Linked DNA regions of Homo sapiens. The protein of the gene in region 1 interacts with the protein of each later gene in a biochemical or structural test. Each region holds a gene or a part of one and is shown in the gene's direction. Other genes may lie near its edges.

What was found.
Region 2: of the proteins of AKAP13 (region 1) and PRKACA, one has a biochemical effect on the other in vitro, tested with the Homo sapiens proteins (one study listed by BioGRID).
Region 3: the proteins of AKAP13 (region 1) and PPARA form a complex in vitro, tested with the Homo sapiens proteins (one study listed by BioGRID).
Region 4: the proteins of AKAP13 (region 1) and RXRB form a complex in vitro, tested with the Homo sapiens proteins (one study listed by BioGRID).

What each region holds. Positions count from the first base shown.
Region 1 is NC_000015.10:85,575,591-85,579,602, forward strand, and holds part of AKAP13 (A-kinase anchor protein 13), read left to right. Parts: intron 1-3,339; coding exon 3,340-4,012. UniProt on the Homo sapiens protein: Scaffold protein that plays an important role in assembling signaling complexes downstream of several types of G protein-coupled receptors.
Region 2 is NC_000019.10:14,103,751-14,107,762, reverse strand, and holds part of PRKACA (cAMP-dependent protein kinase catalytic subunit alpha), read left to right. Parts: coding exon of another isoform or gene 1-52; intron 53-353; coding exon 354-415; intron 416-874; coding exon 875-1,003; intron 1,004-4,012.
Region 3 is NC_000022.11:46,233,885-46,237,896, forward strand, and holds part of PPARA (peroxisome proliferator-activated receptor alpha), read left to right. Parts: intron 1-1,248; coding exon 1,249-1,496; 3' UTR 1,497-4,012. UniProt on the Homo sapiens protein: Ligand-activated transcription factor. Key regulator of lipid metabolism. Activated by the endogenous ligand 1-palmitoyl-2-oleoyl-sn-glycerol-3-phosphocholine (16:0/18:1-GPC). Activated by oleylethanolamide, a naturally occurring lipid that regulates satiety.
Region 4 is NC_000006.12:33,192,962-33,195,762, reverse strand, and holds the end of RXRB (retinoic acid receptor RXR-beta), read left to right. Parts: intron 1-60; coding exon 61-193; intron 194-296; coding exon of another isoform or gene 297-308; coding exon 309-400; intron 401-712; coding exon 713-818; intron 819-933; coding exon 934-1,081; 3' UTR 1,082-2,175; downstream 2,176-2,801. UniProt on the Homo sapiens protein: Receptor for retinoic acid. Retinoic acid receptors bind as heterodimers to their target response elements in response to their ligands, all-trans or 9-cis retinoic acid, and regulate gene expression in various biological processes.

The sequences.
Region 1 (4,012 bases):
CTGAGGCAGGAGAATGGCGTGAACCCAGGAGGCGGAGCTTGCAGTGAGCCGAGATCACGCCATTGCACTCTAGCCTGGGCAACAGAGCGAGACTCCGTCTCAAAAAAAAAAAAACTTTCCTGGCCAGGCACAGTGGCTCATGCCTGTAATCCCAGCACTTTGGAAGGGCCAACACAGGTGGATCACTTGAGCTCAGGAGTTTGAGACCAGCCTGGGCAACATGGAGAAACTCTGGCTCTACAGAAGTTAGCTGGGCATGGTGGCGTACGCCTATAGTCCCAGCTACTTGGGGGTCTGAGGCAGGCAGATCATGTGAGCCTGGGAGGCAGAGGTTGCAGTGAGCTGAGATGACACCACTGCACTCCTGCCGGGGTGACAGAGCAAGACCTTGTCTCAAAAACAGAAAAAGAAGGACTTTCCCCAAAGATTCTGAGACCTGTAAAGCAGTATTAGCAGTATTAAATGTTACCACTTACAGATCAGAGCTAGCATTAAGGTTGTAGCCGTAGGGGGACTGAGAGGTTTTTTTCATTGGTTTTGGGAATAATGGAAGACACACATTTCAGGTACAGAAATATGCAACAACTAGAACTAAATTTCTGGCATAAAAGGATATTTGTCTGTGTTTGGCTTAACTTTACAAAATGAAAGAACCAACAGTTTCTGAGATTGTTGCCAAAGAACAAGAACCAAATTTAATCAGGAGTATTTTTACAACTATTTTAGTGGCGATGATATGTACCATTTAAATATAGTGTTACTATATTTAAATCAATAGTTGTATGGTACAAAGATAGCTAAAAAAAACAGAAAAGATTTTATAATCCACTCAAGTCTTCAAGATAAAGTTGTTGCCAGACATAAAAACATTACAGACTCCCTGTTAGCATTTATTACGAATAACATAAACGTCATATGTGTACATCTCTCTTGGGCATAACATCTGAAAGGCTGTGTTTAGGTAATTTTTCCACCCAGTTTATTTCAGAGCTGATTTGATTTGGAAACCACTGGACAGTAATTTCATTTAAGGTCAGCTCAATGCCAGAGGCTTCTTTGGGAGCATGCATTATTTGAGACCAGCAAGCCAAGAAATTCCATAGGGTTATGTGATGCTCCCACTTTTGTGTTTTAGAATTGTGTTTGTTCCAGAGCACGTGACATTTCATTTTCCTCTGAATGGACTTCTAGGCAATCAGGTTTTTCCTTAGAGCTCTTTTTACTAGGTGAATGGTAGTTCACTTGAAAATATAGTTTTGCAGGTACCAAAGCTACCTGCCAAGATATGGAAATGGTTGGCAGGCAAATACGAGAAATTAAAACTGTGGGAACATACATGTGCTACTTTCTTTAGGCAACACTACTTGTTTCGCCAGATTTCTGTTTTATAATGTTTACCATTTATTAAATTTAATGACTTCATTTCCTGATTTTTAGGAGACTGTCGTACTCTCAGCAGGACTGGAAATAAGCTAATTTTGAATACTCTTAAGGAGCCTAACACAGAAGCTTTTAGTGAAAGTCCATTTTGCTTGTACACTCTACTAGAAAGACTTTAACAAGCATGACACATTTTACACTTGTACATATAAACTTTTACAATAGGCTCAGTAGGTAGATAGGAATGGTCTGATGATGGAACCCTGTAAGTGCCCAATATATTCACTGAGTGAGTAGGTGAATGAGAGGATGGATGGCAGTAGGTATGCATATTATTGCAGTAGATCAGGTAATGAATGAATGGCGAGCAAACCAGATGTTTGGAAAAATAGATTTTAGGTGTTGAGAAAATATTTTTATAAGAATTTTTGAAATTTTGATATAAAGGTAAAATCACTAAAGATCACCTGTATTTGTTTTTCTCCATTTTAAACCTTGCTGCATGCACATGGGATTTTTGCATATTTATAAACTTAGATTAATAATTTTTTTCTAATTGCAATATGGTCCTCATAGTTAATAATGGCTAGTATTTCTTCCATCAGTTTTATGAACCTTGATTTTCTTAATCATTCCCATGCTGTTGGTTATATCTGTTTATATTTTTTAAATACTTTAAAGTTGCAAAATCCATTTTTGAGATTACATATAGTATCCATAATATACTCTGACAGTATATAGGTATATGTTCTCATTTATTTTATATTTAATATGTTCTGATTTTATCAAAAGGTGAAAGAATATCTGCCATGCCACTGTTCCTGAAATTATGACCCCATAACTCGATGGTTAAGTTAGATTGGTTGGAACATATTTTGGGGATTAAAGGACACTGAACTCAGTAAGTATTTAGGGCACAGGCACATTGGCTGCACCTTGTAATGGAAAAGAGCTAGGATTTGTTTTTACTTGTATATATGAGGCAGGGTGTAAGTAGACTCTGCCCTTCTGAAGACAATGAAAAATATAGGTGGGACACAGTGGTGTAGGCCCTATAATCCCAGCACTTTGGGAGACCAAGGTAGGAGGATCCCATAGGCTCAGGTGTTGGAGAACAGCCTGGGCAACATAGTGAGACCCCGTCTCTACAAAAAATAAAACAATTAGTCAGGTGCAATGGTGCACACCTGTAGTCCTAGCTACTGAAGAGGCTGAGGCGGCAGGGTCACTTGAGCCCAGGAGTTCAAGGCTGCGGTGAGCTGTGATCACACCACTGCACTTCAGCCTGGCCTCAGAATGAGAGAGCCCACCTTAATGTTAGCAGCTCAATTGAAGATATTCACTGAGCTTTTTAAAAATCAGGTTTTTGAGACTCTTTTATTTTTATTTTTTTTAAGACGGAGTTTTGCTCTTATTGCCCAGGCTGGAGTGCAGTGGTGCTGTCTCGGCTCACTGCAACCTCCGCCTCCCGGGTACAAGCAATTCTCCTGCCTCAGCCTCCCAAGTAGCTGAGATTACAGGCATGCACCACTACGCCCAGCTAATTTTGTATTTTTAGTAGAGACAGGGTTTCTCCATGTTGAGGCTGGTCTCGAACTCCTGACCTCAGGTGATCTGCCTGCCTCAGCCTCCCAAAGTGCTGGGATTACAGGCATGAGCCACCATGCCCGGCGAGACTCAGTTTTCATCTACTTCCTAAAATAAGTTCAAAATTTAGAAAATAGATATTTCATATATCCTAATCTATTTTGAACATCCCAGTATATAGGCAGATATGAAAGGAAAGTAATATCAGAAATAAGAGGAAATTTATTTGTATTCTTTTAGATTCGCTTATCATGTGACCTTAGAAGAGCTAGAATAGAAGTGAGTTCTGTCCAACAGAATTTTTGCTCAGAGGTGTCAGTGACATCTTCTCCTACAGGCAGTTTTTTAAAAGTGTATTTCATTTCCTCCTAGAAAACAAACCTCAAGCAGATGGACAGTCTTATGCCCTTAATGATGACAGCACAGGATCCTTCCAGTGCCCCAGAGACAGATGGCCAGTTTCTTCCCTGTGCACCGGAGCCCACGGACCCTCAGCGACTTTCTTCTTCTGAAGAGACTGAGAGCACTCAGTGCTGCCCAGGGAGCCCTGTTGCACAGACTGAAAGTCCCTGTGATTTGTCAAGCATAGTTGAGGAGGAGAATACAGACCGTTCCTGTAGGAAGAAAAATAAAGGCGTGGAAAGAAAAGGGGAAGAGGTGGAGCCAGCACCTATTGTGGACTCTGGAACTGTATCTGATCAAGACAGCTGCCTTCAGAGCTTGCCTGATTGTGGAGTAAAGGGCACGGAAGGCCTTTCGTCCTGTGGAAACAGAAATGAAGAAACTGGAACAAAATCTTCTGGAATGCCCACAGACCAGGAGTCCCTGAGCAGTGGAGATGCTGTGCTTCAGAGAGACTTGGTCATGGAGCCAGGCACAGCCCAGTATTCCTCTGGAGGTGAACTGGGAGGCATTTCAACAACAAATGTCAGTACCCCAGACACTGCAGGGGAAATGGAACATGGGCTCATGAACCCAGATGCCACTGTTTGGAAGAATGTGCTTCAGGGAGGGGAAAGTACAAAGGAAAGATTTGAGAACTCTA
Region 2 (4,012 bases), on another chromosome or scaffold:
TCCCAAGGCTATAAATACCTCGGCTGGCGTCGGCCCTGGCCATGGAATGTCGGTCAGAACTGGGGCGAGTGGGGGTGGGCTGGTCTGCCTGGGCACCTCCCTCCGTTCCCCTGCGAGTGACCCCTGAGACTCTCTGTACCCCACTTTGGATGGAGTGGCAGCTGGATCCCACCTCTCTGTAGCAAGGGAGGCCCAGGCCACGGCCCAGCCAAGGCCCCAGAGGCACCAGAAAAAGGTCAGGCTCTGGGTTGGAACTGCACCCCACTTTCCACCAAGTATCTCCCCAGAAATCACCTGAACCCACCCCGGTGAGACGGGCGTCTCTGTATAACTCTCCCCTCTCTCCCTTTCAGTGAAAGAATTCTTAGCCAAAGCCAAAGAAGATTTTCTTAAAAAATGGGAAAGTCCCGCTCAGGTAAGGCTGCCGGGTGCAGAGCCCAGGGAGGGGTGAGCTGCTAACCCCCAGCCCCTGGCTGTGTCCCAGCAACACAGCTAGAATTTCAGAAACCCCATAGAAGGCTTCAGACCCTCCCCATTTGCTCCCTAGGTGCCCATGGGGGCTCCTGTGTGGAGACACCTGACTGCCCAATGCCAGGCACCCCCATCCCACCACCCCTCCCAACGGCCCGCCCCTGCCCCCAGCACAGCTGCCAGCAGCTTCCAGGCCCCAGGCCAGGGCCGGATCTGGCCCCTGCCACCCGCCTTAAGGAATGTGCCCTCTGCCATCTTGATTTTCCGCCCCCTGTCCTCACCCCGCTGACCCCACGTGCTCCCCGGGGCCCCCTCTGCCGGTGGCAGAGGGGATGCCCCAGACCTTAGCCAAGCAGGCCGCGGGGAGGGCGTGCCCTGAGCCTACCGACCCCTCTGCCCACAGAACACAGCCCACTTGGATCAGTTTGAACGAATCAAGACCCTCGGCACGGGCTCCTTCGGGCGGGTGATGCTGGTGAAACACAAGGAGACCGGGAACCACTATGCCATGAAGATCCTCGACAAACAGAAGGTGAGGTGGCCTGTCCTCGCTCAGGGCCTGCCTGTCAGGCCTTTGCCTGGACTGTGCCCACTCCTTAGAGTGCCCTATCCACCCGTTCACTCACTTGCTTTTTTTTGATTCAGAGTCTCGCTCTGTCGCTCAGGCTGGAGTACAGTGGCGTGATCTCGGCTCACTGCAACCTCCACCTCCCTAGTTCAAGCGATTCTCCTGCCTCAGCCTCCCGAGTAGCTGGGATTACAGGCGCCTGCCACCACACCCAGCTAATTTTTGTATTTTTAGTAGAGATGGGTTTTCGCCATGTTGGCCAGGATGGTTTCGAATTCCTGACCTCAGGTGATACACCTGCCTCAGCCTCCCAAAGTGCTGGGATTACAGGCGTGAGCCACCGCGCCTGGCCGCTTGGTTTTTTTGTGGGGGACAGGATCCTGCTCTGTTGCCCAAGCAGGAAAGTGCAGTGACGTGATCATAGCTCACTGTAGCCTCAAACTCCTGAGCTCAAGAGATCCTCCTGAGTAGCTGGGACTACAAGCGCACACTACCATGCCTGGCTAATTTTTTTTTGTTGTTTGTTTGTTTTTTGTTTTAGACAGGGGGTCTTGCTGTGTTGCCCAGGCTGGTCTTGAACTCCTGGCCTCAAGTGATCTCCTACTTCAGCCTCCCAAAGCACAGGGATTACAGGCATGAGCCACCATGCCAGGCTCACCCACTATTCCCCGAGCCCCCATAATGTGCCAGCCCCAGGGGTCAGAAGGGCCCTGTGCCGCCTTCCCAAAGCTCCCTCTCCAGGCCGGCCATGGATTCAAAGCCAGGCACTGTGACACAGGGTCAGACACCAGCCCAACAGGAGGAGAACAAGAGCACTCTTGGGGGAAGTGGTGTTTATGTGCACTTTCTTCCCGTAAATATTTTTGTGATCGGACTTTATACCAGGCACTGCTATAAAGCAGCAATGTAACTAGCAGAAATGTAACCTGAGCCACAGAAGCAATTTTAAATTTTCTGTTTGCTCCATCATAAACAGTAAAAACAGCCAAGCACGGTGGCGCACGCCTGTAGTCCCAGCTACTAGACAGGCTGAGGTGGGAGGATCACTTGAACCCAGGAGTTCAACTCCAGCCTCGACAACACAGCCAGACCCCATCTCTAAAAAAACACCCAAAGTTTGTAATTAAAAGAGAAAATGAAAGAAACAGGTGTCATTCATGAAATTCATTTTAATGACATGTTTGGGGCTTTTTTTTATGTTTTTTTTTTTTTGAGACAGAGTCTCACTCTTGTCGCCCAGGCTGGACTGCAGTGGCGTGATCTCAGCTCACTGCAACCTCCACCTCCCAGGTTCAAGTGATTCTCCTGCCTCAGCTTCCCAAGTAGCTGGGATTATGGGTGCCACCACCACGCCCAGCTAACTTTTGTATTTTTAGTAGACTTGGGGTTTCACCATGTTGGTCAGGTTGGTCTCGAACTCCTGACCTCAGGTAATCCGCCCGCCTCAGCCTTCCAAAGTGCTGGGATTACAGATGTGAGCCACCACACCTGGCCTAATGATATGTTTTAATTAAGCCAGTATATCTACAGTATTACCCTTTCCATATATTATCAATGTGAAAATATCATTAATGAAACATTTTACATTCCTTTTGTTTTTTTCCCAGTCCTCCATGACTTCGGAAATATTTCCTTTTTTTCTGTACTGAAGTATCTTTAAAATCCAGTGTCTATTGTATGCTTACAACAGTTCTCAACTCTGATGGTAAATTTTTCCTGGAAAGATAAGAAAAAGCAGGGAAGTTGAAAAAGCAGATTCACATGCCCAAGTTGTTCCAACCATGCCTGAAAGTCACCAGTACCTGCATCAAGAGTTTAATTTTTGTTTTGTTTTGTTTTGTTTTGTTTTTGAGATGGAGTTTCGCTCTTGTTGCCCAGGCTGGAGTGCAATGGCATGATCTCAGCTCACTACAACCTCTGCCTCCGGGTTTCAAGCGATTCTTGTGCTCCAGCCTCCTGAGTAGCTGGAATTACAGGCGCCGGCTACCACGCCCAGCTAATTTTTTAATTTTTTTTTTTTTTTTTTTTGAGATGGAGTCTCGCTCTGTCGCTCAGGCTGGAGTGCAGTGGCACGATCTTGGCTCACTGCAACCTCTGCCTCCCGGGTTCACGCCATTCTTCTGCCTCAGCCTCCTGAGTAGCTGGGACTACAGGCGCCCACCACCACGCCTGGCTAATTTTTTGTATTTTTAGTAGAGATGGGGTTTCACCGTGTTAGCCAGGATGGTCTCCATCTCCTGACCTTGTAATCCACCGGCCTCGGCCTCCCAAAGTGCTGGGATTACAGGCGTGAGCCACCACACCTGGCCAGTTTTTAAATATTTTTAGTAGAGACAGGGTTTCACCATTTTGGCCTGGCTGGTTGTTGTTTTTTTTTTTTTTTTTTTGAGACGGAGTCTCGCTCTGCCACCCAGGCTGGACTGCAGTGGTGTGATCTCAGCTCACTGCCAGCTCCACCTCCCGGGTTCATGCCATTCTCCTGCCTCAGCCTCCCGAGTAGCAGGGACTACAGGCGCCCGCCACCACACCCGGCTAATTTTTTGTGTTTTTAGTAGAGACGGGGTTTCACCATGTTAGCCAGGATGGTCTCGATCTCCTGACCTCGTGATCCACCTGCCTCGGCCTCTCAAAGTGCTGGGATTACAGGCGTGAGCCACCGTACCCGGCCTGGTTGTTTTGTTTTTGAGACAGGGTCTTGCTCTGTTGCCCAGGCTGAAGTGCAGTTGGGCTCAAATGATCCTCCCACCTCAGCCTCTGGAGCTGCTGGGACCATAGTCGTGCCATGCCCAGCTAATTGCTTTTGTTGTCCTTGTTGTTGTTTGTAGAGATGGGGTCTCGCTACATTGCCCAGGCTAGTCTCAAACTCCTGGGCTCAAGCGATTTACCTGCCTGGGCCTCCCAAAGTGCTGGGATTACGGGCGTGAGCCACCATGCCCAGCTGGTGTCAGTTTTTTAATTTATATTTTAGATACT
Region 3 (4,012 bases), on another chromosome or scaffold:
ACGATCTCAGGTCACTGCAACTTCCGCCTCCTGGGTTCAAGTGATTCGCCTGCCTCAGCCTCCTGAGTAGCTGAGATTACAGGAACATGCCAGCACACCTGGCTAATTTTTGTATTTTTAGTAAAGATGGGGTTTCACCATATTGGCCAGGCTGGTCTCAAACTCCTGACCCCGGGTGACCCACCCACCTCGGCCTCCCAAAGTGCTGGGATTACAGGCATGAGCCACTGCACCCGGCAATAATTCCTCTCTTTAGAGACTTAATAGTTATAGCCCCAGCCACTCTGGAGGCCGAGGCAGGAGGATTGCTTGAGCCTAGGAGTTCCAGTCCAGCCTAAGCAACAGAGCAAGACCCCATCACTAAAACAATACAAAAACAAGAATTTTAGAAATAAAAACTTAATAATTACATTTACAACCAAAAACAATGAAGATGTTTAAATCCTCATCACTAGCAACCCTGTTAAGAATCATAGTAATGACTGGGTCTGTAAGGGAGCACCGCCTGCTGAACATGGCTCAGGGCAGTATTTTCTGGACCAAGAATCAGGTCTCATGCTTTGAGACTGTCCCAGGATGTCTAGTGCCAGCTACCCCAGGCAGGTCATCTGGTGTGAATGTTGACTCTTCCTGCACCAAGTCTCAGACCTGCCCCACCCTCCTCCCCACTCTGGGTCTCCTGATCTTGGCTCACTGCAATCTCCGTCTCCCAGGTTCAAGCGATTCTCCCACCTCAGCCTCCCGAGTATCTGGGATTACAGGCGTGAGCCACCGTGCCTGGCCTACAAAACCTAGTTCTAACACAATCACTCCTTAAATATGGTGGAACACTTGAAGCTTGATATCTAGTTTGGATTCAAAAGCTTCATTTCCCATATTATGCAAAACTGGTGGTTGTGATCTCCAGAATGTACTGTTCCTCCTACTAGCTCTAATTTTTCTCCCTGACAGGTGGTCATCAGGTAAATCACAAGTGAAAAGGCCGCACCATAAGGTGTACTTAGGGCACTATTGCCGCCTAGTAGTATGAATATTTAGGAAAGAGTACTGGTCCTGTCTGTCCCTACTTCACCTATTGACTTTGGAAAAACCTATGTCTATCTTCCAGTCAAGTTGACAATATCTAAAGGCAGCTCAGTTTTTTTCTAAGAAAGGCCACATAAAATAGGCATGTTTGGTTCCTGAAACTGATAAGCAGTTCTTGGGTGATTATCACACTCAAACCTCTCTCTCTTCTTTCGAGACTAGATCGTCCTGGCCTTCTAAACGTAGGACACATTGAAAAAATGCAGGAGGGTATTGTACATGTGCTCAGACTCCACCTGCAGAGCAACCACCCGGACGATATCTTTCTCTTCCCAAAACTTCTTCAAAAAATGGCAGACCTCCGGCAGCTGGTGACGGAGCATGCGCAGCTGGTGCAGATCATCAAGAAGACGGAGTCGGATGCTGCGCTGCACCCGCTACTGCAGGAGATCTACAGGGACATGTACTGAGTTCCTTCAGATCAGCCACACCTTTTCCAGGAGTTCTGAAGCTGACAGCACTACAAAGGAGACGGGGGAGCAGCACGATTTTGCACAAATATCCACCACTTTAACCTTAGAGCTTGGACAGTCTGAGCTGTAGGTAACCGGCATATTATTCCATATCTTTGTTTTAACCAGTACTTCTAAGAGCATAGAACTCAAATGCTGGGGGTAGGTGGCTAATCTCAGGACTGGGAAGATTACGGCGAATTATGCTCAATGGTCTGATTTTAACTCACCCGATGTTAATCAATGCACATTGCTTTAGATCACATTCGTGATTTACCATTTAATTAACTGGTAACCTCAAAATTCGTGGCCTGTCTTCCCATTCACCCCGCTTTTGACTATTGTGCTCCTTTATAATTCTGAAAACTAATCAGCACTTTTTAACAATGTTTATAATCCTATAAGTCTAGATGTATCCAAAGGTGAAGTATGTAAAAAGCAGCAAAATATTTATTTCAAAGACTTCACTTCTGTTTCCTGAATCTAAAGAAAGACAACATGCTGCTTTTTAATCATAGGATGGAGAATTTTAAAGAACTGTTTGGGCCAGGCACAGTCGCTCATACTTGTAATCCCAGCACTTTGGGAGGCCGAGGCGGGTGGATCACAAGGTCAGCAGATCGAGACCATCCTGGCCAACATGGTGAAACCCTGTCTCTACTAAAAATACAAAAATTAGCCGGGTGTGGTGGCACATGCCTGTAATCCCAGCTACTCGGGAAGCTGAGGCAGGAGAATTGCTTGAACCAGGGAGTTGGAGGTTGCAGTGAGCTAAGACTGCACCACTGCACTCCAGCCTGGTGACAGAACGAGACTCTGTCTTAAAAACAAACAAACAAAAAAAAAATCTGTTAGATAAGCTATCAAAATGCAGCTGTTGTTTTGTTTTTGGCTCACTGTTTTCGTGGTTGTAACTAATATGTGGAAAGGCCCATTTCCAGGTTTGCGTAGAAGAGCCCAGAAAACAGAGTCTCAAGACCCCCGCTCTGGACTGTCATAAGCTAGCACCCGTGGTAAGCGGGACGAGACAAGCTCCCGAAGCCCGCCAGCTTCCTGCTCCACTCAGCTCCGTCCAGTCAACCTGAACCCACCCAGTCCAGCTGTCTGTGGGAATGGTGGTGTTCTTAGGGACAGACTGACACCTTACTTGTCAGTGTTCCTCCGGGCCCCATTTGGCAGCTCCCGTATCTTTTGTTATGTTGCTTTTAAAGATATGATGTTTTATTGTTTTAACTCTTGGTGACAGTAGATGCTCTCTGGAGCGCAGACGAGGCACATGTGTCTTCATAGCCTGGGCTGGGTGGGAGCCAGTCACCCTGCGGATCGAGAGAGGGGGTAGAGTCTTCTTCAAATGGCAGTTTTACTTCAAATGGCAGATTTCACAAGAGTTGGTTATTTTTTACAATGGTTTAGGTTGTTAAGTCTCCTTTGTATGTAAGGTAGTTTTTTCAACATCTAAAATTTTTGTTTTAGCCTTCAAAACCAACTTACCAACCTCAGTCCAGCTGGGAAGGCAGCGTTGATTATGGTAGTTTGTCAAGAATATATGGACCTGGAAACACTTTCTCTCTCTGTCCACCTGGTAGATAAATTGTCCTGTTGAGAATTTTTAGATCTGGACTGGAACTGCCAGGACCACCGCCTCCAGGGAGTCGCTGGGCACCTGGAGGTATCGTCGATGCCTCTCCCCCATCTTTAGAAAATTTGGCTCTTCTGAGGTCATTATTATTTTAAGAATGATTAGGATTGATAAGGGTCCCATGACCAGCATTATGAAAATGCGAGAGTGGGAAGGACACAGTGTGAGACTTCCACTAGAAAAAAGTGAAAGTTAGGGTTAGGACATCCTTTTTTAAAAATTACAAATTTAGTCCGTTTTGGTTTTTGTAATCAGGCTAGGCACAGTGGCTCACACATGGAATCCCAGCACTTTGGGAGGCCGAGGTGGGAGGATCACTTGAGCCCAGGAGTTCGAGACCAGCCTAGGCAACATAGCAAGACCCTGTCTGTACACAAAATTTAAAAATTAGTTCATCGGGGTGGCACACATCAGTAGTCCCAGCTACTCTGCAGGCTGAGGTGGGAGGATTGCTTGAACCCAGGAGGTCGAGGCTGCAGTGAGCTGTGATCTCACCACTGCATTCCAGCCTGGGTGACAGAGTTAGATTCCACCCTCTCCCACCCCGGCAAAAAAAAAAAAAAAAGATGCAATCAAAGGGGCTGTTGGCCAGCAATGGCAGCAGCAGCGGCGGGCAGTCTGCCCAAGTGTCTTAGGAACCAAAAGCAAATAAAAGTGTTTCCATATATGCCACCAGCCAAGTGGCCATCCTAATTCAGAAAGAAGCTAGCCTTTGAGTGTCTGTCATGGTGCATCCGTTTCAGTATTATTTCCTAAAATGAGAAGCCCCTGTGTCAACAAGATCCAGGGGCTGGAGCCCAATGCCAAGCCTGTGTTGTCCCCAGCGACCCTGCAG
Region 4 (2,801 bases), on another chromosome or scaffold:
TGATGTGCTTTGAATCCCTTGGCCTGATTTCTGGCTCCTGACCCTTGCTGCCCCACCCAGGCTGGAATGAACTCCTCATTGCCTCCTTCTCACACCGATCCATTGATGTTCGAGATGGCATCCTCCTTGCCACAGGTCTTCACGTGCACCGCAACTCAGCCCATTCAGCAGGAGTAGGAGCCATCTTTGATCGGTCAGTGGCCCTCGGCTAGGCTGGCATGTAGATAGAGGGGGTGGGGCTATAGGCTGGTCCGTGTCCAAGGCTGGCTGAGCTGTGACCTTTGAGTGACCTGCAGGTCCCTCTCCAGGGTGCTGACAGAGCTAGTGTCCAAAATGCGTGACATGAGGATGGACAAGACAGAGCTTGGCTGCCTGAGGGCAATCATTCTGTTTAATCCAGGTAAGAGGAGGATTACCTTTGTCTCTCAAGGCCAAGGCAACCTTGGAGCCTCCTCTTCTCCGAGACTCCTAAGTTACCCAGCTATCCCCCTCAGTAAGACCCTCAACCTGGAAATCTCCCAACTGGCCGAGGAAAAACCCACATCCACGGATCCATCCCACAAACCCAGTGGGCCCTGCTTCCCTTGCCAGGCCTCTGGTAAAGGGCAAGCAAGTGCAGCCCAAAAGGGGCATCCTGTGGCTCACATCTGCATGGCCATCCTGATTTGGTTTGTCTTCATTTCTCTTCCTCCTCTCTTCCCTGCCATCCCAGATGCCAAGGGCCTCTCCAACCCTAGTGAGGTGGAGGTCCTGCGGGAGAAAGTGTATGCATCACTGGAGACCTACTGCAAACAGAAGTACCCTGAGCAGCAGGGACGGTGAGATGGGGCTGGGGGGCACTGAGGCTCCCTTGGGGGTGGGGAGTGCTATGAGGATGTGTTCAGGGCCCGTGTGCTTCCAGCTCTCAATCCCCTTCTCCCACCTCCACCCCAGGTTTGCCAAGCTGCTGCTACGTCTTCCTGCCCTCCGGTCCATTGGCCTTAAGTGTCTAGAGCATCTGTTTTTCTTCAAGCTCATTGGTGACACCCCCATCGACACCTTCCTCATGGAGATGCTTGAGGCTCCCCATCAACTGGCCTGAGCTCAGACCCAGACGTGGTGCTTCTCACACTGGAGGAGCACACATCCAAGAGGGACTCCAAGCCCTGGGGCAGGGTGGGGGGCCATGTTCCCAGAACCTTGATGGGGTGAGAAGTACAGGGCAGAACCAAGAACATAAACCCTCCAAGGGATCTGCTTGATATCCCAAGTTGGAAGGGACCCCAGATACCTGTGAGGACTGGTTGTCTCTCTTCGGTGGCCTTGAGTCTCTGAATTTGTCGGGTTCTCCCATGATTTGGGGTGATTTCTCACCCTCTGTCCTTCCCCCAGCACAAAGCACTGGCCTTGCCTCCAGGACCTTGCTTCCTTCTCATCTTGCCTCATTTTGCTTCCCATCTGAAGAGTGGAAATGGGGAACTCCCCCAGAGGTGGATACTGGGGGGCAGGCCTCCCAAGCTGATGGACATGAGAGTAGGGCCCTGACAGGCCTTCCTCCTCTCAAACCTGGCAGATGGGGGCCTCTCTGGAAGAGGGAGGGGCCCTGTCACTGTCCAGAGTCTCTTTTTACACTTCACCTCCTTCTGCAGTCAGACTGAAATATAAAAAAGGTGGTGGTGGTGGTGAAGGGGCTGGTGGAGATGTAGGAACCGATCTGCTATTTTTAATTTCCTGTGAGGATAGAGACTTGCAGTTAGACTCAAAGAAGTACTGTACTTTCCCAGGTTGACTAAGAAATGCCAGTGGTGGAGGTGGGTGTTTGGGAAAGGCAGGGCCCTGAAATGGCCTGTCCCTAGGGCTCTCCAAGCACTAGCCTTCCCAGCTTCCCGCCGCCCCCCCTATCTCTTCCTGTCTAACTTGGGGAAGGGGCCTGGGCTGTGAGGACAGGGCCCCCACAGGGGATGGTTTCACGAGTGTAGTCCCGGAGGCCTTCCCTTTACAGCTCTCCTCCAGCCCTGGGCACATAGCATAGGCTGGGGACACAGGATCCTGGCCTGAGAATTGAGGGGAGGTGGCCAGCCCGCAGAGGTGGGGTGCTGGGGCTGCATGATTTTTGCCCTGCGTCCCTTCTCTTTGGGGCTCCTTTCCCCTCTCATACATAAAATCGCTTTCAAATTAAAATCGCTGTTTTCTGGACTGAGGTGACTGTATGAGGATGGGCAGCGCCGTTTCGGGCTTGGGGGGGGTATCCGGTTGGGAGCTCCGGACGCGATCCCTGGACGCCGCCGCCGAGGTTCCGTGGGGCCCAAGAGGTGCACGCAGGGTGGGGGACACAAGGCAAGCTTTGTCGGGGAGGGGGGGAGAGGGTGTGCCAGGCTGGGGGCGGGGCCGGCCGGAGGAGGAAGGGGGGGCGGTGGATTCTCAAAGGCGCCTTGTTCGCTCGTGCCCTCTCCGCGCCAGCGGGCGGCGGCGCCTCGGCTCGCTGCGGCCTTCCCTCCGGGCGCGCTGCGGGCTCCGGGCAGACCCGGCGCCGTGCCCGCTCGTGGGGGCGCACTGGGCGCCGAGCGCTGCGTGCTTCTCAGGCGTTGCCCGCCCGGAGGCGGCCCACGTCCCCGAGTGACCCCATTTCCCTGGACCCTTCCAACCAGAGTCGACTGCTCGCTCATCTTACCACTGCTCCCCCTCTACCTCGGCTCTGGGACTCCCTAACCGCGTCCCCCATTTGCATCTCCTTGGACCTGACTATCCTGTGTTTGTCGGTGGGTCCCAGTCTCTGGCCTCTTGCTCTCCGTAGAACACCTTCCCCCACATCCCCCGCCCCA